Regions from separate parts of the Homo sapiens genome. Here regions 1, 2 and 3 are each linked to region 4. Evidence: fine-mapped expression QTL. A gene starts in region 4. Each other region holds a variant in brackets. All regions are shown on one strand. Distances are between the middles of the regions.

Evidence for each region.
Region 1: its variant is fine-mapped to the expression of CAPN2 in whole blood (TOPMed, PIP above 0.99).
Region 2: its variant is fine-mapped to the expression of CAPN2 in blood mononuclear cells (TOPMed, PIP above 0.99).
Region 3: its variant is fine-mapped to the expression of CAPN2 in whole blood (TOPMed, PIP above 0.99).

What each region holds. Positions count from the first base shown.
Region 1 is chr1:223,761,926-223,767,073 of GRCh38, forward strand. CAPN2 (calpain 2) reads left to right here. Exons shown (of 21, transcript NM_001748.5): 14 at 261-326; 15 at 2,225-2,282; 16 at 4,442-4,506. Among named protein-coding and RNA genes, the nearest start is that of CAPN2, 52 kb to the left of the region's middle. The variant T/C (reference allele first, on the strand shown) is at 2,214.
Region 2 is chr1:223,518,978-223,524,125 of GRCh38, forward strand. No RefSeq gene overlaps it. Among named protein-coding and RNA genes, the nearest start is that of CCDC185, 130 kb to the left of the region's middle. The variant G/A (reference allele first, on the strand shown) is at 2,157.
Region 3 is chr1:223,754,523-223,759,670 of GRCh38, forward strand. CAPN2 (calpain 2) reads left to right here. Exons shown (of 21, transcript NM_001748.5): 10 at 958-1,127; 11 at 2,847-2,858; 12 at 4,748-4,959. Among named protein-coding and RNA genes, the nearest start is that of CAPN2, 45 kb to the left of the region's middle. The variant A/C (reference allele first, on the strand shown) is at 2,268.
Region 4 is chr1:223,710,449-223,715,596 of GRCh38, forward strand. CAPN2 (calpain 2) reads left to right here and starts at 2,091. Exons shown (of 21, transcript NM_001748.5): 1 at 2,091-2,429. The coding sequence starts at 2,193. RefSeq lists enhancers at 1,688-1,737, 1,777-2,728 and silencers at 1,838-2,227, 2,438-2,557.

The sequences.
Region 1 (5,148 bases), 51 kb after region 4:
AGAGAAGATACCTCTGTGAGAAATTAGAATATTACTCCTTCCCACATAATTTACATTCCTTCTTGTGTTTTAATTAGAAAAAAAAAACCTTATATTAATTCTTCACACTATACCTGATCTTAACCCAAATCACCGTAGAATTTGGGCCCCAGGGAGGGGTAGAGAAGGGGAGTGGGAGGTGGCTGCCATGGAAGGGCGGGCAGACACTTGGTGTCATGCCTCGCTCTGATGCATTCTCATGTCTCTGCCTCACCTTCCAGTTCGACATCAGCGAGGATGACATTGATGATGGATTCAGGAGACTGTTTGCCCAGTTGGCAGGAGAGGTAAATGTTCCCAAAAACGATGTTATGCACTCTGGTTGATGCAAAGGAAGAGACAGTGTGTGTCCCCAAGGGGACTTTAGTTTAAAGGGGAGAGGAAACAAACTGAACAAAAGCAAAGAGAAATTGCAAATGGCACTTGGGTTCCAGCTCAGCCCTCTTGCGTGTGTCCTCCCTAAGACCTCCGCATGCTGCCGGGGGCTTCCATTTGCATGGTCAGCCCTGACTCTGTGTTCCTCCTTCCTTAGGATTCCTGGGCTCACCTTGTGACTGTTTTATTTTCTCTGTTCTACACCAATTGAGGCATGAAACTTGGCCCCTTATCCTTGATTTCCACAAAGGATTTGGAGAGATGGAAGGGTTTCAAGTCTCAAGAATGCAGGCCACCTGCAACAGAGTGTTTGAATTAGGCTTTTCTGTTCTCTTTTCTTTTTTCTTTTTTTCTTTTTAGAGACAGGGTCTCTCTCTGTCACCCAGGCTGGAGTGCAGTGGCATGATCATAGCTCACTGCAGCCTCCACTTCCTGGGCTCAAGAGATCTTGCCACCTTAGTCTCCCAAGTAGCTGGGACTATAGGTGCACACCACCATGTCTAGCTAATTTTTATTTTATTTTTATTTTTGTAGAGATGGAGTTTTGCCATGTTGCCCAGGCTGCTCTGGAACTCCTGGGCTCAACAATCCTCCAACCTTGGTCTGCCAAAGTGTTGGGATTACAGATGCATACCACCATGCCCAGCTAATTTTTAAATTTTTTTTAGAGACAGGGTCTCACTTTGTTGTCCAGGCTGGTCTTAAACCCCTGAGCTCAAGCAGTCCTCCCACCTCAGCCTCCCAAAGTGCTGGAATTACGGGTGTGAGCCACCATACCTGGCCACTTCCCTGTTCTTAAAAAAATCCCTCAGCCATTTAGTCCCATCACAAAGTTATTTAGCCCTCTTTCTTCCCAACAACTCCAAAAAAAAAAAAAAAGTCCTCTTTCTTCACTATGTGGAGGAACTTTCCAATCATTGAGCTCATCTGGTACTCCCTTCGCTGACCTAAAGACCCATCAAAGTACTAAGCCAGGCATCGTCTGCTCTGCGCCTCCACCGGCCTCTCACCCTCTGCTCCCTCCCAGATTCCCAAGGAAAGGGGCCATGAGAGTCTTCTTTCCCCTCTGATTGAATCCCACACATACACACCCCAAAAGGCAAACATGACTGCAATCAATCTTGGTTTTAAACAAAGGAGTTTATCCATGAGTTACACAAATATGTGTAAGTGGATAGAGACATCTGAGCCCATGAGGGGCCCTGGCATGATGGGCATAGAGGAGGGCCGGCTAGGTCTTGGAGACAGCTGGTTTTCACCAGTTTTACAGGAAGTCTGAGCTTTGAGTTTTAAAGAATGAAGAAAACATGCCAGATAAGAGGAATGGTATAAGAGAATTAAGAAAGACCACAAACATGGGTAGAGGGGAGTATTTATTATTTATATTCTCTACAGCAAAGAAATGGTGAGTGAACTCTCCCTACTGCATCCGTACATTAAAACACCGTATCTAGGCTGGGCACAGTGGCTCACACCTGTAATCCCAGCACTTTGGGAGGCTGAGGCTGGAGGATCGTTTGAGCCTAGGAGTTTGAGGTTTCAGTGAGCTAGGATCATTCCACTGCAGTCCAGCCCAGCCTGGGTGTTCTAAAAAGAACCAAACCAAAAACACTGTATCTAAAATCCAGAATGGGGCAGTACTACTCAAAGTGTGGTCTGGGGACAGCAGCCCCAACATGGCTCGGGGGCTTGTTAGAAATGCACATTCATAGGCCCCACCGCAGGCCTACCTAATGCACTGGTGTCCTGCCCTGTGCTCATCCAGCTCCCACGGGGGGCCAATAACTATGCTCTGGTTA[T/C]GTGTCCACAGGATGCGGAGATCTCTGCCTTTGAGCTGCAGACCATCCTGAGAAGGGTTCTAGCAAAGCGTGAGTATCCCCTCATTGCAAAACCTCATCCTGCTCTTTCCCCTGTGGATGGGAGGGAACATGGAAATCTTTCCCCCTCCATGTCTGGCTGCTGTGACTAAACCACCACCCTCCATCCCCTCCAAGAAGTGGATGAAGGATTTGTATGATGTGATGAAAAAGAACAAGTGTTTGTAGCATCCACAGATCAAAGATCAAATCCAGGTTTCCACTACATACTAGCTTTGTGTGATCTATTTTTTTAATTTATTTTATTTTATTTTTGAGACAGAGTCTCACTCTGTCGCCCAGGCTGGAGTAAAGTGGCACAATCTCAGCTCACTGCAATCTCTACCTCCCAAATTCAAGCGATTCTCCTGCCTCAGCCTCCCAAGTAGCTGGAATCACAGGCAAGTGCCACCACAGCCAGCTGACTTTTGTATTTTTAGTAAAGACAGGGTTTCACCATATTGGCCAGGCTGGTCTTGAACTCCTGACCTCAAGTGATCCACCTGCCTTGGCCTCCCAAAATGCTGGGATTACAGGCATGCACTACCACATCCAGCTAATTTTTGTATTTTCCTAGAGATGGGGTTTCTCCATGTTGGCCAGGCTGGTCTTGAACCCCTGGCCTCAAGTGATCTGCCCACCTCGGCCTCCCAAAGTGCTGGGATTACAGGTGTGAGCCACCGTGCCCGGCCACATCTTGTAACTAACTATTTCTTAAGCAAAAAAATGTCAGAGGATTGATTGTTCAACCCCTTACTGTGGATCACCAGCAGGGAGGAGCGGGAAACACAACACAGAGACATTTTTTCCCCTCAAATTATCAAAAGAATCACGCTGCATTTGTTAAGAGAGCAACTGGCAATCCAGGAAGCAGAGTTTTGAACATATCAGAAGTTAGGAATCTGCATCAGAGACAAATGCAGTCATGGTTGTTTGCTGCATACCAGCCCTAGGGATCATCTCGAGAAGCCTCATGGACTTCAAGGGACATCATTCCCTCTGACAAGATGGCCTCTAGCCTAACTCCATGAGATAAAATAAATCTGCCTTTCAGAGCCAAAGAAGAGTCCAGGGCCAGCTGGGTCTTCCCTCCCAGTGTGAACCAAGAGGGCTGGGCCAGTCAGGTTACGGTCAGTCCAGTGCAGGGCCTCCCCAGAGGAGACCCAGTCTGCACCCGCCCTCCTCTAATTTTCAGGGAAGGCAAGAAGATTGTGTTTACCCTGGAGGCCACCAGGCACAAGTGAGGTCACAGAGCTCTTCAGATATGCAGTCCTCATGAGCTGAGGAGACTAAAGCCTCATTGTTTCTGCACAGATGGAGGGTGGGGCTGGGAGGTGGGGAAGAAGCGGGCCTTGCCTGGATTCAGCCCGCTCCTTGCTGGGGGAGCAGCATTCGCTCCGCGCGTGCCTCTGAGCTTACTACCCTACCCCTAGCTGCCTGCTGACTCCAGCCTTCTGGAGGGCTCCACACCAGAGTCTGCATGCACAGCTGCTGGGCCAGAGCCTTATGACCATCTAAGGGGTTGGTGCCCAGAGTGGCAGCTTTGAGGCAGGTCAGGCTCTAACCTCTTTCGGGGACATAACAAAAAGGCTGGGCTTTTCGTGAAGTCTGTGGGGAGCCAGGTTCACATTGGTGACTAGGGAGGGTCTCATGCCACCTGCCAAACACCAAGTGGACAGGACTCACTTAGTGCAGCACAAATAGCTCGTGGATCGATCCCAGTTCCTCAGGTTTCTCAGTCAGCTGGGGACACAGTCCATAAATGTCTGCAGATGGACAGTTCAAGTAAACCTCTTTCTCTCACGGGTCATAGCCTAGAATTAACACACCTGCTCTCTGTTTTCTTTTTCCCTGCCCAACAACTACAGGTGACTTTATATCCTGTGGGCACCTAAGGCCCAACCATTGATCATTCTGTTATTTATTTGTTCAAAAAGCACTTTTTAAAGCCCTGTTTGCCCACGGCAAATATACAGAGACATCAGGACAATGTGGACATCATCTGCACTGTCCCAGTCTGGTAGTCACTAGCCACATGTGGCTATTTAATATAATGGAAGTGGCTTCTGTATGTGAAGGGCACAGATAAAGAATATCTCCATGATTGTGGAAAGTTCAGTTGGACATCACCGCTCAGAGATTTTTCCTGTCACACTGATTTTGTCTTTTAGGCCAAGATATCAAGTCAGATGGCTTCAGCATCGAGACATGCAAAATTATGGTTGACATGCTAGATGTATCCTTTAATGTGCTCCAGGGAATAGAGACTGGGGGAGTTTAAAATCTCACTCCAGAAAGATTCAAACACATGGCCTTCTCCCTTTTCAAAATAGCCAGTTGTTCCCAACTTGCTGAGTTGCTGTCGGACAGTCAGCAGCGCTGACCTCCCTTACTAGGGAAATGCGAGAACCCTCTGATGAGGGAAAGCAAATGCTACACCCCCCCTCCCACCTACCCTGAAAGGCTTAGAATGCAGGCCCATGGCGGGCGGTGGCTCATGCCTGTAATCCCAGCACTTTGGAAGGCCAAGGTGGGCCTCCTGACTCACGAGGTCAGGAGTTCGAGACCAGCCTGACCAACATGGTGAAACCTTGTCTCTACTAAAAATACAAAAATTAGCTGGGTGTGGTGGCGGGCACCTGTAATCCCAGCTACTCAGGAGGCTGAGGCAGGAGAATCACTTGAACCTGGGAGGCGGAGGTTGCAGTGAGCTGAGATCGCGCCACTGCACTCCAGCCTGGGTGACAGAGCGTGACTCATCGCCAAAAAAAAAAAAAGAAAAAGAATGTAGGCCCACCAGTCCATTCCTGGGGCTGGTGCGGGAAATTCCTGACAATATGCCCATCACTTCTTTGCACAAAGCAGCTCGAATTTGTTT
Region 2 (5,148 bases), 190 kb before region 4:
TAAGAAAAAAACAAACAATCCCATCAAAAAGTGGGCTAAGGACATGAATAGACAATTATCAAAAGAAGATATACAAATGGCCAACAAACATATGAAAAATGCTCAACATCACTAATGATCGGGGAAATGCAAATCAAAACCACCATGAAATACCACCTTACTCCTGCAAGAATGGCCATAAAAAAAAATCAAAAAACAGTAGATGTTGGCATGGAATTCGAGTCCTGCCTGGGCAACATGGTGAAACCCCATCTCTACAAAAAACAAACCAAAAAAATTAGCTGGGCATGGTGGTGCATGCCCAAGTAGTTCCAGCTACTTGGGAGGCTGAGGTGGGAGGACCAACTGAGCCCAGGGAGGTTGAGGTTGCAGTGAACCATGATTGCACCACTGCACCCTAACCTGGGTGACAGAGTGAGTCACCGTCTCAAAAAAAAAAAAAGGTAGTGGATTGAACACATGGATCTAATATTCTTCCTTCACTAAACCCAACTAAAACTACAGTAGAGGATTTTTTCCAAATTAAAAAAAAAAAAAAAAAGGAAGCTGGAAAAAAGATGGACAGGTGGTAACTACCTTCTAAGCAGTCGTAAGGAAAACGAATCTGGCCATCCTCAGGCCATATCTCATAGGGACCCAAAAACAGTTATTTCCCATCCTGCTACCCTAGACACTGTCCCTTTGGATGACCACTGCCCAAGAGTCACTTGAGGGCAGCTTCTCCCTGTGGATGTGGCTCACTCTGTCCGGTGTCTCCCATGAGAAAGCCGGGAGACCCTTTACTCTACTCTTTCCAGGTGCTCCCAAAGCCATGACAACTCAAGAGGTCAACAACTCAAGACGACACCCCGTTCCTTTCCATCCTCATTGAGCCATCTCTGGGAGAGAGAAGGCCCTCCACTTCTTGGCATCACACTCCCAGTGCCTTTGCCACACTGTCCCTCCTAAGGGCAACTCTCTGTTTCCACCACTGGGCCAAGGAAGGGGACAAGTGCGAGGCCAGCACCTTCTTTCCCAGAACCAACATCCAGCCTGACACCCTGAAGTCCCCTTCCTCCATGTGTACCTTTAGAAGAAGGAACTTGTGCAAAAGCCTGCTGTGAAGCACCCCCACCTCCCAGAAGACCAGAGCTCAGGCCCAGGCTCCCCTTCACTGAGCACTATTGGCCCCAATATGAGCCCCTACTCCTTATGCAAGCTGTATTTTTTTTTTCTTTTTGGAGATAGGGCCTCACTCTGTCACAAGGTTGACTGTAGTGGTGCTATCATAGCTCACTGTAGCCTCAACCTCCTGGAACCAAGCAATTCTCTTACCCCAGCCTCCCAAGAAGCTGGGACTACAGACATGTGCCACCACACCCAGCTACGTTTTAAATTTTTATGGAGATGGGATCTTACTATGTTGCCCAGCCTGGTCTCAAATTCCTAGCCTCAAGCGATCTTCCTGCCTCAGCCTCCCGAGTCTCTAGGATTACAGACACGAGTCACCATGCCCATCATAAGTCATATTTTTAAAATCTTCTACAGGTGTTAGGGAATTGAGGAATAGATTGTGTCTAGCTTGTTTGCATTTACAATGATTATATTTGGTGAATTAGATGTAAAAGAGCCCCTCCTTACACAATATTTTTTAAATGTAATAGAATTCACTTTAAGATGTTTTAAATTTTCATTTCTAGTGGAGCTCTAGGCAATTGAATTCTTCAGCAGTCTACCATCTCTTAGTTTTTATCAGGTTCTGAGAAAAATGAAAAAAAAAATCAGAGTAGAAGATGTCATCAACATTACCATGACAAAGAAAGTTTTATTTTTCTGGACTAAGTGCCTTCTAATGTCAAAAAGAGAAAGAAAATGTTATTTTTAAAGAACAAAAACATTTCTAGGCTGAGCGCAGTGGCTCATGCCTGTAATCCCAACACTTTGGGAGGCTGAGGGGGGCGGATCACGAGGTCAAGAGACTGAGACCTTCCTGGCCAAAATGGTGAAACCCCATCTCTACTAAAAATACAAAAATTAGCTGGGCGTGGTGGCACATGCCTGTAGTCCCAGCTACTCGGGAGGCTGAGGGAGGAGAATCACTTGAACCCGGGAGGCAGAGGTTGCAGTGAGCTGAGATTGTGCCACTGCACTCCAGCCTGGTGACAGAGCCAGACTCC[G/A]TCTCAAAAAAAAAAAAAAAAAAAGAAAAAGAAATCTAAATTTTTTGTATGTGATGTTTGCTTTTAATACTAAAACCAAGAAGAACTGATGCTTATGGAGTGTGTGCCCAGTGCTTGTCCCTGAACTCAGTGCTGGATGTGCATTAATTCATTCAAATCTCACAGTAACTTAGGCCAGCAGGAGCCACTACTAACTACCCCATTTTACAGATGAAGAAACTGAGGGTTGATGAGATTAAGTAACTCATCCAAGGTCCCATGGCTAGTAAATGGGTATCCAAAATTTGTCTGACTCATAGCCTGAGTTTTAGCCACTACACATCCTGACCTCTTTCTTTTTCATTTTTGTTCGAGACAAGGTCTGGCTCTGTTGCTCAGGCTGGAGTGCAGTGGCGCTATCTCAGCTCACTGCAAGCTCTGCCTCCTGGGCTCAAGTAATCCTCCCATTTCAGCCTCCCGAGTAGCTGGGACTACATGCACATACCACCACATCCAGTTCATTTTTGTGGGGTTTTTTGGTTGTTGTTGTTTTGTTTTGTTTTGTTTTTTTGTAGAGACGGGGTTTCACCATGTTGCCCAGGATAGTCTCGAACTCCTGTGCTCAAGAGATCCACCCACCTTGGCCTCCCAAAGTTCCTGGATTACAGGCATGAGCCACCATGCTCAGTCGTATCCTGACTTTTCTGGAATTTTGTCTACAATTTCTCTATTTATGCTGCCTCTAATACTTCATTTTTTCCAGGCTTAAGGAAACTGAACTTCCGCCCAGACAAAGAAAGACTTTTCTGTCCTTTCAGATACTCCTTTATTTCTTGAGTCAAAGTGCAAACTTCCAGAAATCGGTTTCTCTGCCAAGGTATGTCAGAGTCCTAAGCACCCGAGCCTTGTTGCTGAATGGCATCAGGATCAAAGGCCTGTGACAGTCTAACTATCCTTGTTGTGCTTTCTCGAGAGGCCTATTCTAACACCTTTTTGTTTGTCCAACAGTGAGACTGAGAAGCACTTTCTAAACTTTAATTAGGCTGCTCTCCTGGGATTCTGTGCTCAGAGAGTCCTTCCCTGGCCTACAGCAGACAGGCTGCCCCTCTGGGCTTAGTTGGTGCCCTGGGTCCCCCAGAACACCCTTTTCTCATCCTTTCTGGGCACACAGAAACCTCCCAGATCATCCATGCCCAGTAGTTACCAAATGGGGCCCTAGCGGACCCCCCTACTTTGAGCCCCCCACCCTTTTAAGTACTCCACGTACCGCAGATGAAGCTGCCACAGTTGCCAGCACGTCAGCACAGGAACCGCCGCAGTCTGTCCCCCTTCCCCACACATCCCACTTTGACTCTCCATGTCGCCAGCTCCCGTTAAACTGGGCTCTTCACATCACTCCTGGGTTCTGCCTTTTCCATCTGACTACGTGGTGACCATCTATTCAGCTCAGGCCCTGGCCCCCTCAGACTCCGTTTCCACTGTTTGCTCATTGTCTCCCCTGCACCCCGGCCTCACAGGGTACCCCCACAGCTGTGCAGCCATCCACAGGCCCTTCCCATCTAGAGAGGGAAGCCGACAATGGAATCCCATTGGGGAGAGCCAGAAGGAGCATCCATAAAGTGCTAGACACTTGGCAATTGTCACTTAATCCTCACAACAACTTGTAATTTATTTATCCTCCACTTTATTCCAGAAATGGGTTAAGAAGCCTTATGAGACTACATAAAAGACCAACTTAGCATGAATTAAAAGCAGAAGCAAAAGAAGAAAGAGAAATAACAGGGCACATAAACCAAAATTAAAGAGCAAAATGTGCTACATAAATTCTTCGCTGTGTGTGGCTGTAACTTTGTCTCTGATATCCCCTTGCAGCCAAGAAGGGAAGGGGAGCCTGAGCGGTGCCGGAAGGCAGGTATTACCATTTCTGCTTTACAGGTGAAGAAGTAGGCCAGAGGTTGAGGGGTTTGCCCAGGGTCGCACAGCTGAGAGGTGGCAGATGAGACTTAAATCTAGGCCTACCCAGACAGAAGGCACTGTTTTTTGGGTTTTGTTTGTTTGTTTTGGTAGAGGCAGATCTTGCTATGTTGTCCAGGCTGGTCTCGAGCTCCTGGCTTCAAGCAATCCTCCCTCCTCAGCCTCCTAAAGTGCTAGGATTCCAGGCATGCACCACTGCACCCAGTCTCCAAAGGCACCTTCTAAGTCTTGTATTCATATTTAGGCTCTCCTGAGATCTGTCCCAGGGGCGCATCTCCAGTGTTCTTCTAGGACCAGAACTTTCTCCTGAATGAGAGGTATCCATCAGCTGCCATGGCTCTTCTCCAGCCACTGTGGCATCACCTGGACAATGCAATGGGCTTGTCTCTCCTGGGATTGTGGACAGTGGCAGTGGCTGTGAGGGAAGTGGGCTGTTATGGCGGCTCTGTCCTAGTCAGAGCAGAAACCAATCAACCTTTGGTTAAGGCAGGGCCAAGGGAGGGAGAGATAAAGGGGAGGTCCTTCAAGACATCCACACTTCTGTGTAACGGCCCTGCTCCCTGCTCCATCCAAAGGCAGCATACAACTAATAGACTTGTCATCTCGGGCGATAACATTAGCCTCATCATTACCATTTTACTAAATAAGTCATTTCAAATTAATTACCTTGCACTCTTTCAAATTAGCTCTGGTTGACTCCTCCATTCCTACTGATTATCACATTGGCAGAATTCATTAGTCCTGTAGATAAACTGAAGTGGTTGTGTGTGCACTGGGTATATAGATGAGCTCTTCCTCCCTGACACATGTGCCAGGGAGCCCAAGTGCATCCAGGAGGCTCCAGTCTGCAGTTGGGCAGCATGGCCGTGGGCCCATTGGTGACATCTCCCAAGTCTGGGACCCGTCAACTCTAGTCATTACCCTCGAAGGTTGCAGCATCCTATGAACAGCCTTGTCACTAGTTGGCTTTGTCCTTTGCCTCCCTCTTGGGTTCCATGAGAAAATCATGTGAATGAACATATCAATTGCTTTCTTCTCT
Region 3 (5,148 bases), 44 kb after region 4:
TACAAAAACAGGCAGCGGCCTTCGGAGCCATAGCTGCCAACCCCTACACAAGATGGTGCCTGTAATTTCACAGTTAGGGTTTTATCCCATTAGGTATGGAAAGGCAATTAGCATAATTCCCCTTAAACATGAATGAATCTTAGATTTTTTAAATAAATAGGTTTTGGAAGTAAAGAGGGCAGAGACATCAGGAGCAGGGCAAGGGAATAGGCCTGAGAGGACAAGGGACGCAGAACAAGAAAGAGTCTGGAATTATACACAGGATGTTCTTGGCCTCCGGGCTCACCGAGGGGGCGGCGACCGGCAAGTGCAGGGAGCAGATCCCGGAGTCCCCCAGGCCAGCCGAGCCCCGCCCCAGGCTCCCCATCAGAGCCCAGTGAAGAGAAGGTACCATGAGGGGAAGCCACAGCTCTAACCACCCTGCGTTCCAGAGTGACAGACCAGTCCCCAAGACAAGCCAGCCTGGAGCCAGAGAGAGAACTGCAAGAGAAAGTTTCTAATTTAGGTTCCTGTTAGATTCAGACAAGTGCAGGTCATCCTCTCTCCACAGCTACCGTCACCCGTCTCCAGCCTAACAAAGCCTGCAGTCCACACTCCAACCCTGGTGTCTCCCACCTCCTAGCCTCTCCCAACATCGCCTGCCGTCTCTGACCATCTTCTGCCATCCTCTGCCATCTCCCACCATCTCCCACTGTCTCCCACAGCCTCCCACCGCCTCTTGCCAACTCCCACCATCTCCCGCCATTTTCTGACATCTCCCGCTGTCTCCCACCATCTTCTGCCATACTCTGCCATCTCCCACCATCCCCCACCACCTCTTACCATCTCCCACCACCTCCCACCATCTCCCTTTATCTCCATCCCTCTCAGAAGCCTCCAAGCCTGAGACCAGGGCCACCCCCCACCCCCATGCATTCCTGCTCAGGGCTGGGCTCCTCTGCCCCTTTCTGGCTGCAGACACATTCTGGATGAACCCTCAGTACCTGATCAAGCTGGAGGAGGAGGATGAGGACGAGGAGGATGGGGAGAGCGGCTGCACCTTCCTGGTGGGGCTCATTCAGAAGCACCGACGGCGGCAGAGGAAGATGGGCGAGGACATGCACACCATCGGCTTTGGCATCTATGAGGTGCAGAGCGCAGGGGCTCCTGCCCTCCCTTCCCCATGTGTTCATCTCAGCCCCTGCATGGAAAGCTGACCCCAGAGGCAGAACTGGGGATGGGATCCCAGACCGGGAGCTTGGCCAAGGAAAAACAAAACTACCAGCCTGGCCAGGCTCAGGAGTAGCCCCCGTAGGGAGGCCCCTGCAGTGGCTCTGGGTTGTGGGGCCTTCTAAGCCCTTCACGGGCCCCCCACAGCCAGCCTGCAGGGAGTTCCACTCTCAAATGGCCTCCACATCCCTTCTCACATCCTCCAGGCCTGGCATTCTGGTCAGCCTACCCATCTTCAAAGAACAGAATATACTGGGCCACATCAGGCAATACTGTGAGGGCAGGACTGAGTCCATGGGTGCAGCTGCTCAGAGCTCGGCAAAGTCATTGGCCTGGATGGTGGAGAGCTTGGGGACAGGGGAACATTGGTCATGATGCTCCCCCCAGGGCTCTGATGGCTGGAGCCCAGATCCCTACACAGACTCCTGCTGTATGCGTGTTTTCCTTTCACTCTGAGCCACAGCCAGAGGGCAGCCGCATTGCAGTCTCCTCTCCGCCCTCAGGCTGGGGCTGGGGCACTGAGAACTCACCCAACACGCTGGGCCCCTGGGCTCTCCCCACTCCCTTCTGCAAAACAAGAAAGAGCTTTCGTGGGCTGCAGGTAGCCATGCGAGGAGAGGGATGAAAGGAAGGCTTTAGGGCACTGACTGGGGATGCATTTCGGTTTGATGGGCTGGAGCTGGCTCCTCCCGGCTCCCAAAGCCCATCTCTTTTCTCTGACCCATGTCTGCTGAGGTCCTTCAGCAGCCTGAAAAATGGCCCTGGCAGGGACCTGTTTACACCATGGAAAGTGGCAAATAGTACAAATCAGAGCTTCCACCCTCTCCCAAGAGCCAGTTTCCCAGCACACCCCTGGGAGAATCCAGACGAGGTGTCAGGAGAGGAGGCTCTGTGCTCACCACTGGCAACGTTGCCACCCATGGAACACTGACTTCTACCTGCTCACCCACCTGAGAAAGGCAGCTGGGCAAATACCATCAGTTGTAAAAATGCACATAGGCCTAAACCCCTCCGTCTCTGAAACAGGAGCTGAGGACTTCGGATCTGGGACAGAATCG[A/C]TCCAAGGACAATGCAAATGGAATTGTGATACACAGCTTCCCTCCCACCGGCTTATGGGCTTGGAAATGCAGCCACGGGCTTTCAGAGTTGGGACGGACCTTGGGGATCACTGGGTCCTATTTTTGAGACAAGAAAACTGAGGCCAGAGAGGAGAGGGGACTTGCTCAAGGAAATGCAGACCGGACCACTGGACCTGGCTGACAGAGGCCGGCACTGCTGGCTCCTAGCCCCAGGTGTATTTCACCTCGCCTGCTGCCTCCTCCAACAGGGCCCGCCTGGCCCTCTTTCCCTGCGTGGGAGGCCGATATGGGCTTTGCCACCTTAGACAAGTCTCTTCACATCTCCATGCCTGAGATTTATACTCTAAGTTAGGAAGGGAGGTGAGGGCTTATCAACATAAGAGGATTTTCTTCAGTGTTGGAGAGGCTTTGAGTTCCTTGGAAAACAGTTACTCGGTTGAATTAGTTGATATTGCTAATGCTACAGAGAAAACGGGGGCAGCGGAAGAGAAGAGCACAGTGATGCATTTTCTTACACTGCTTTTCCGGCATCTGAATTGCATCTCCTTTATTTTGCAGGTTCCAGAGGAGGTACGTCTGGCCCATGTCCCGGGGTGCTCAGGTCACCAAAAAAGCGAGAGGCTTAGACTGCTGGAGCTCAGGGAGCGTCGTGAAGCCCGGGCAGGGGCTGGTGGTCATGAAGGATGAGTCCTGGCCACCCCTGGGGCCCTGCTGAAGTTGCCCAGGCTCTAGATCCCACTGGTCTAAGCTCTGGGCAAGGTTTCTGGAAAGTCCTTGTGGGACCCGCTGCCTCCCTGTGACCTGGCAGAGCCCATACAGGGTTTGGTTCTGGGCAGAAAATCCATGATCCTGAGACTGCAGGAGGCTTTTCACAAAGTTCTTTGTCACTCTTAGGAGAAGACTGAGTCAGGGAAAAGGTGAACCCTGCAGACTGTACTAGAAGACAACGCGGGAGCACAGAGGAGACCAGGACCCAATTCCCAGGCTGTGTGACCTTGGACACGTTACAGCTCCTCTCTGCATTTCAGGGTTTTGTTTTTTTTTTTTTTGATTTTTGGTTTGTTTGTTTGTTTTTTGTCTCGCTCTTTCACCCAGGATGAAGTGCAGTGGCATGATCTCGACTCACTGCAACCTCTACCTCCTGGGTTCAAGTGATTCTCCTGCTTCAGCCTCCCCAGTAGCTGGGACTACAGGCACGCACCAGGATGCCAGGCCAATTTTTGTATTTTTAGTAGAGACGGGGTTTCACCATGGTGGCCAGGCTGGTCTTGAACTCCTGACCTCAGGTGATCCACCCCCTTCAGCCTCCCAAAGTGCTAGGATTACAGGTGTAGCCACCGTGCCTGGCTGCATTTCAGTTTATTTTTCAGTAAAACTGGTCAACCATCCACCTCACTGCACTACCGTGGAATGACTTAAATTTTGCGAGAGCATTTGGGCCCACAGTCACCGCTTGCTGAAGCAGATGGGATGCCTGGTCCAAGGTCACGATTATTAAAGTAGACACACGGGGCACTTTGACCCACCTGTAGTACATTTCTTTCACAGCAAGGCAGTGCAACCGGTAGCACATCGGGCTCTTTTAGATGCTGCTCCAGCCTTGGTCCGGTGGATCATGCTTGGTTTAGAAGCTGGGTTGTCTTTCTCCTGCCCCCAGTCCTGTCTTTGCTTTTATAGTGCATCATACACCACGTAGAACCGAGCCAGGTTCCTGCCATGTGGACGCTGTTCCTGCCTGAGAGTCTCTTAGAGGAAGGCTGGGAACACTGTGGAAAGACTGGGCATCTCTGCAGGCGGAGCTGAATGGATGTGAAACCCCTGTGGGCATGTGCTTCCGAGTTCCTCAGCAGGCATTTGTGTTTTTTGGTAGAAAGTTTGCTTTTTGTTTTTTTTTTTTTTAAGACAAGGTCTCATTCTGTCACCCAGGCTAGAGTACAGTGGTGTGATCATAGCTCACTGCCGTCCTTGAACTCTCAGACTCACGTGAGCCTCCTACCTCAGCCTCCTGAGTAGCTGAGACTACAGGCGCTTGCCGCCACCCCTGGCTAATATTTTTATTTTTTGCAGAGACAGGGGTCTCACTACATTGCCCAGGCTGGTCTCAAACTCCTGGCCTCGAGCAATCCTCTCACAGCCTCCCAAAGTGCTGGTATTACAGGCGTGAGCCACCACACCTAACAAAAGTTTGCTTTTTATCTAAAATGACCCAGGCATTGTCACTGTACTGCTATTTTTTTAAAAAAATTTTGTTGTTTTGTTGTTGTTGTCGTCGTTATATAGATGAGGGCTTCCTGTGTTGCCCAGGCTGGTTTCTGACGCCTGGCCTCGCCTCCTTATACACCAGGACAGCAGGACTGAGCCACCACACTACCCAACTGCTTTTATCTCAGTGAATGAAAATGATACTTGCCTGGAGGCTTCCCCTCATCTACCCCCATGTTTCTCTATTTATTCCTCAGTTAAGTGGGCAGACCAACATCCACCTCAGCAAAAACTTCTTCCTGACGAATCGCGCCAGGGAGCGCTCAGACACCTTCATCAACCTCCGGGAGGTGCTCAACCGCTTCAAGCTGCCGCCAGGAGAGTACATTCTCGTGCCTTCCACCTTCGAACCCAACAAGGATGGGGATTTCTGCATCCGGGTCTTTTCTGAAAAGAAAGCTGACTACCAGTAGGCGGTTTGGTCCCTTCCTCTCCCCACCCTTCCCTGTCCCTCCCCACTGGTCTGTTCCTCGGCCCCTAGAGGGCTCTTTCATCCTCTGAATGTCAGTTACTTTTTCTGTAACACCTGCCCACCTCGAAGGACTAGTGTGGGGATTTGATGGATTGAGGAAGTTCTAGTGTTATAGTAAGGTAAACA
Region 4 (5,148 bases):
CCTCCCCCTCCCCTACCCCCGCCAACCATCTAAATGGATGGTTCCTCCTTAGCCGAGGCTCTTAAAATTTTAACCTGAAATTTTCAGGCCATGAAGGAAAGGCAAGGTCGGACATGCTTCATTATACCTCTCCAGCGTGAACATCAACCAGAGTTTAGGTCTGATAAGAAACATTTTACTGCCTGTTCACTCTGAAGCCTGCTAGCTAAAAGCTTCATCTATGTGATAAAACTTTTGTCTCCACAACCTCTTATCGCAACCCAAACATTCCTTTCTATTGATCCTGGGCCTTTAGACAAACTCAACCAATTGTCAACCAGAAAATGTTTAAATATTTACCTATATCCTGGAAGCCACCCCCACTACCCACCCACCACCCCCCGCCACTTTGAGTTGTCCCGCCTTTCTGAACCAAACCAATGTATTTCTTAAATGTACTTGACTGATGGCTCTTGCCTCCCTAACATGTATAAAACCAAGCTGCACCCCAACCACCTCGGGCACATGTCCTCAGGACTTCCTGTGTCACAGGTGTGCATCTTCAACCATGGCAAAAGAAACTTTCTAAATTAAATGAGACCTGTTTCAGATTTTCTGGGTTCACAAGAGCTATCTTGGACATTGGAAGATGTTCAGCGGCATCCCTGGCTTCTACTTAGTAAAGGCCAGTAGCACCTCATCTCCTAGCTGTGACCATAAAAACTATCTCCAGACATTCCCAAATGTCTCCTGGGGTGGGTAGGGGACAAAACTGCCCCCAGTTGAGAACCACTGCTGTAGACCATGCACAGTTTTCCAGTGAAACCCAAATTCTTCCCTACTACTGTAGAGAAGAAGAGGAGGTAATTTCTGCCCATCTGCATTTCTTGGCACGCACCCATGTCTCTGTGTGTGAGATGAGAATCACACCCTAGCTCCACAACAGAGTGGTCACAGTAGCCAACACAGGCAGTATTCTAAATGCTCTCTCCCTATAGTAACCCAACTAATCCTGCCAGTTAAATATGAGTTTCAGGTAAACAATGAATCATATTTTCTTTTAGAATAAGTATGTATGCCCATGCAATATTTGGGCCCTACATATACTTTAAAAGTATCTGTTGTTTATCTGAAATTCAAATTAAACATTTGGGAGGGTTGTTGTTTTATTGGCCAAATCATTTTATTTTATTTTATTTTTGATATGGAGTTTCGCTTTGTCACCCAGGCTGGAGCGCAGTGGCGCGATCTCGTCTCACTGCAACTTCTCCCTCCTGGGTTCAAGCGTTTCTCCTGTCTCAGCCTCCCGAGTAACTGAGATCACAGGTGCCTGCCACGACGTATTTTTAGTAGAGACGGAATTTCACCATGTTGACCAGGCTGGTCTCGAACTCCTGACCCCAGGTGATCCGCCTGCCTCCGGCCTCCCAAAGTGTTGGGATTACAGGTGTGAACTACCGCACCCAGCCTTATTGGCCAAATCTGACAACCCTATCTATAATCAAATAAACAGCTGAGCAGTAGTAATTGCAGCATTGTGATTGCAATAGGCCTCCGGTGGCTTAGAGTCCCTGTTCTGCCTGTGACTGTTGTGCCACATTGGGGACGTCATTTAGCGTCTCCGAGGCTCAGTTTTCTCATCTGTAAAATGGGGACAATATCAGCGCCTTCTTCAGAGTCGCTGGGAGGATTAAATGAGATGATGTATGCAGAGCCGTTAAGACGCTGTTTGGCACAAAGTTCAGGGCAGCTGGTTTAGTTTCCTCGACTTCACTACCTGACCCTCTGCTAACTCCCCGGGTGTTTTCCGGACGGCCACAACTATCCTAGCCTTCTTCCCTATGGGCTGCAAAGGTGGCCTCGGGTTCCGGTGGGAGCCCCAACTCTGGACCGCGATTCGCGAGCCTCCCCGGCGCCGGGCCGCGCCATCCCGGGAGCTGTCCGCAGATGGCAGCACCGGCCCCGGGTCGCGGCGTTCCCGGCGCTCGGCAGGCCGCAGGATGGCCTGGTCCCGGGCCGGGAGCCCAGCAGGCCGGGAGCGGCTGAGGCCACACCCCGCGGGCCGGGCCGCTTCCCTCCGGTGAATCATCGCTCGCAGCGGCGGCGCCCGCAGTGGCCGCAGCAGCGCGCCGGGCCCTGGCCGCGCCCCAGCCGAGCGCAGCGCGGAGTCGCCCCGACCTTTCTCTGCGCAGTACGGCCGCCGGGACCGCAGCATGGCGGGCATCGCGGCCAAGCTGGCGAAGGACCGGGAGGCGGCCGAGGGGCTGGGCTCCCACGACAGGGCCATCAAGTACCTCAACCAGGACTACGAGGCGCTGCGGAACGAGTGCCTGGAGGCCGGGACGCTCTTCCAGGACCCGTCCTTCCCGGCCATCCCCTCGGCCCTGGGCTTCAAGGAGTTGGGGCCCTACTCCAGCAAAACCCGGGGCATCGAGTGGAAGCGCCCCACGGTAGGAAGCGCGCGGCAGGACGCGGGCAGGGCGGGGTGCCGGGCAGGGCGGGGTGCAGGCCGGCCCGCGGCGCGCTGGGGCGGGGGGCAGCCCGGGTGCTGCAGTGGGGAAGCCGCAAGCCAGGACCTCGCAGTCCTGCGACACCTCCGCGCCGCCAGAGCCCGGGACTCTGTTCGAGCGTGGGGGGACTCCCGGGGCCTTCCCTCTCTTCCACCCACCACGCTTTCCTGGGCGGGTCGAGGCGAATCACTGCCCTCAGATCCCACTAGCAGGCCACTTTAGGACTTCACAAAAACTCAGGGTGATGCAGGAGGCCGGGGTGAAACTTTGATTGGACTCTAGCGGGGAGCTGGAAGGGAAGGGGAATCGGGTCTGCAGGGAAGGGACGGTGAGAGGCAGCATCTACCAGACAAAGTCCGTCTCCAACTGGGGTTCTGTCTGTTCATGGAGGGGGACAGGCCATAGCCTGGTCATTTTGTGACTAAGGATAGTCTCCTGCAGCCCTGGGGTTAGATTTATTTTTCCAAAGGGGAGCCAGCGATACCTCCTCATAACATTGACACTGGTAATTAACCCAGGACACGGAGGTGTCTCATGGTTTCCCTGGCGGGAATCACCCGGGAAACCTCCGGGAGCCCTCCAGACCCCCTTATCCCGTCCCCCAGGGTCTCTGACCTCCCGGCCCTGGGACAACTTGTGCTCCCCAATCTACTTGTCCATTCTGTTTCTTGGGGAACCCCTGAGGCTCCTCCTCCTTTGGGACACTTCCCCAGGCTTCCCCTACCACGCCTAGGAAAGCCTGCCCTGAAGTCCAACTTCTAGATTCCTGTTGTGAGAACAAGGCTTCCAGCTCTGCTTCCACACCCAGCAGCCTCCCAGGTCACCTTCTGTTACCCTAAATCCAGCCCATAGGTAGCAAGGGCTGCAGGAAGCGCCCTAGCCCAGACTCAGAGCACTTGGGTTCTTCTTCTTGCTAACCTGCTGGTGACCTTGAACGAGCCATTTAACCTCTCTGTGCCTCCATGTCTTCATCTAAAAGAAAACATGCTGCCTAAATATTTTCTCTCTTTTGTGGCCCACTAGGCCCTGCCGTCATGGCCTCCTTTCAGTCTCTCAAAGAGCCGGTTCTTTCCTGCATGAGGCCTTCTCACCAGCAAGGCACGCTGTTACCTGGAGTGTGGCTCACTCTCATTCTTCCCAACTTAGTCACATGTTCCCTTCCTAAAGAGGTCTTTTCTGACCCTTCTTAGCAGCCACCTCCCCACCTTGTTTTTCTCTGTCACCCCACTCATTTCCTTCATAGCATTGTCACAGTTTAGAATATAATCACATGTATTTGTTCTTCCTACTGAACTGCAGGAATCATGTGTATATTATTTACCAGTATATCCCCAGTGCCTGACACATAACCATGCCTTTCACAGTATTCATTCATTCATTCATTCATTCATTTACTCACTCATTTGACAACACTGATTGAGCACCTGTTACATGCCAGGCACTGTCCTGAGAGCTCAGGAGATACACCAGTGAACACAAAAGAAGTGACTGTTTGTAGAATATGGATGCAGGATTGTAATGTGCCTCAAATGAAATTATGGTTGTGAAAGTGATACGCTGACCTGACTCAGTGCCTCACACCTGTAATCCCAGCACTATGGGAGGCCAAGGTGGGAGGATCGCTTGAGCCAGGAGTTCAAGACCAGCCTGGGCAACACAGTAAGACTTGTCTCTATAAAAAAGTAAAAAAAAAAAAAAAAAAAGTGAAACACAAACCAAGAGAATGTGTTCACTTTACATTTGCATGGCACTTTACAGTTTACATAGTGAGTTCACATACTCATTCACTTATTCTTTCATTCATTCAGTAAGCATTTCTCGAATACCTACTATATGCTGGGCACAATGCATATGGTTTCTGCTTCTGAAGACTTACTTCTGAGGCTAGTGAGGGGACAGAGACAGGTCCCCCAACAGTTGGAAATGCCTGTGGGACTTCCAGATGAGGATGTAGAGGTCTAGAGATGATCTAGCGCCACTGCTTAGGGCAGGCGGGCTGTGCACTGCACAACTAAGGAAGAGTGTGACTTTTACGATCCCCATTTGCCAGTTGAAGAAATTGAGGCTTGGGAAGGTTAAATACTTGCTCAGAGTCAAGTGGATATAGGGCATAGATCCAGGACTGTGTGTAGTCTGTGCATGTTGAGCCTACCCCTTATGGCTGCGCTCTCTGCCTCCTTCCTACCTTCTCAAATGCTGCTGAGGTCAGGCAAGGGGAGCACAGTTGTTTCCGCTGGATTTGAACACTAGCAAGTCATTGGTGAGTTTAGCAGAGCAATTTCAATGGAAAGGTGAGAGTAGAAGCCAGATTGTTGTAGACTCCAGAGTAAAGGAACTGGAAATTAAGAACATGATCAACTTATTTAAGAAGGACCCCCGGGAAGAGAGGAGAACTGATAGGTAGAGTAGGACCTGGACTTTGAGAGCCTGTGTTTTTTTCATATGAGAACAACTTGAATGTGTCATATGTTGAATCACCAGGAAGAAGGGATTAAAGATAAAGGCAGGGAGGGGGCAGTGAAACAGGATCCCTGAGGAAGTGAGAATACGGGTTGTGGGCAGGGGAGGGGAGCAGGTTAGCCTTGCAGCAGGAGGAGCTGCTCTTCCTCGGAGAGAGGATTTCACAACACTGGCAAGAGTGGCTCCAGTGCCTGGAGCG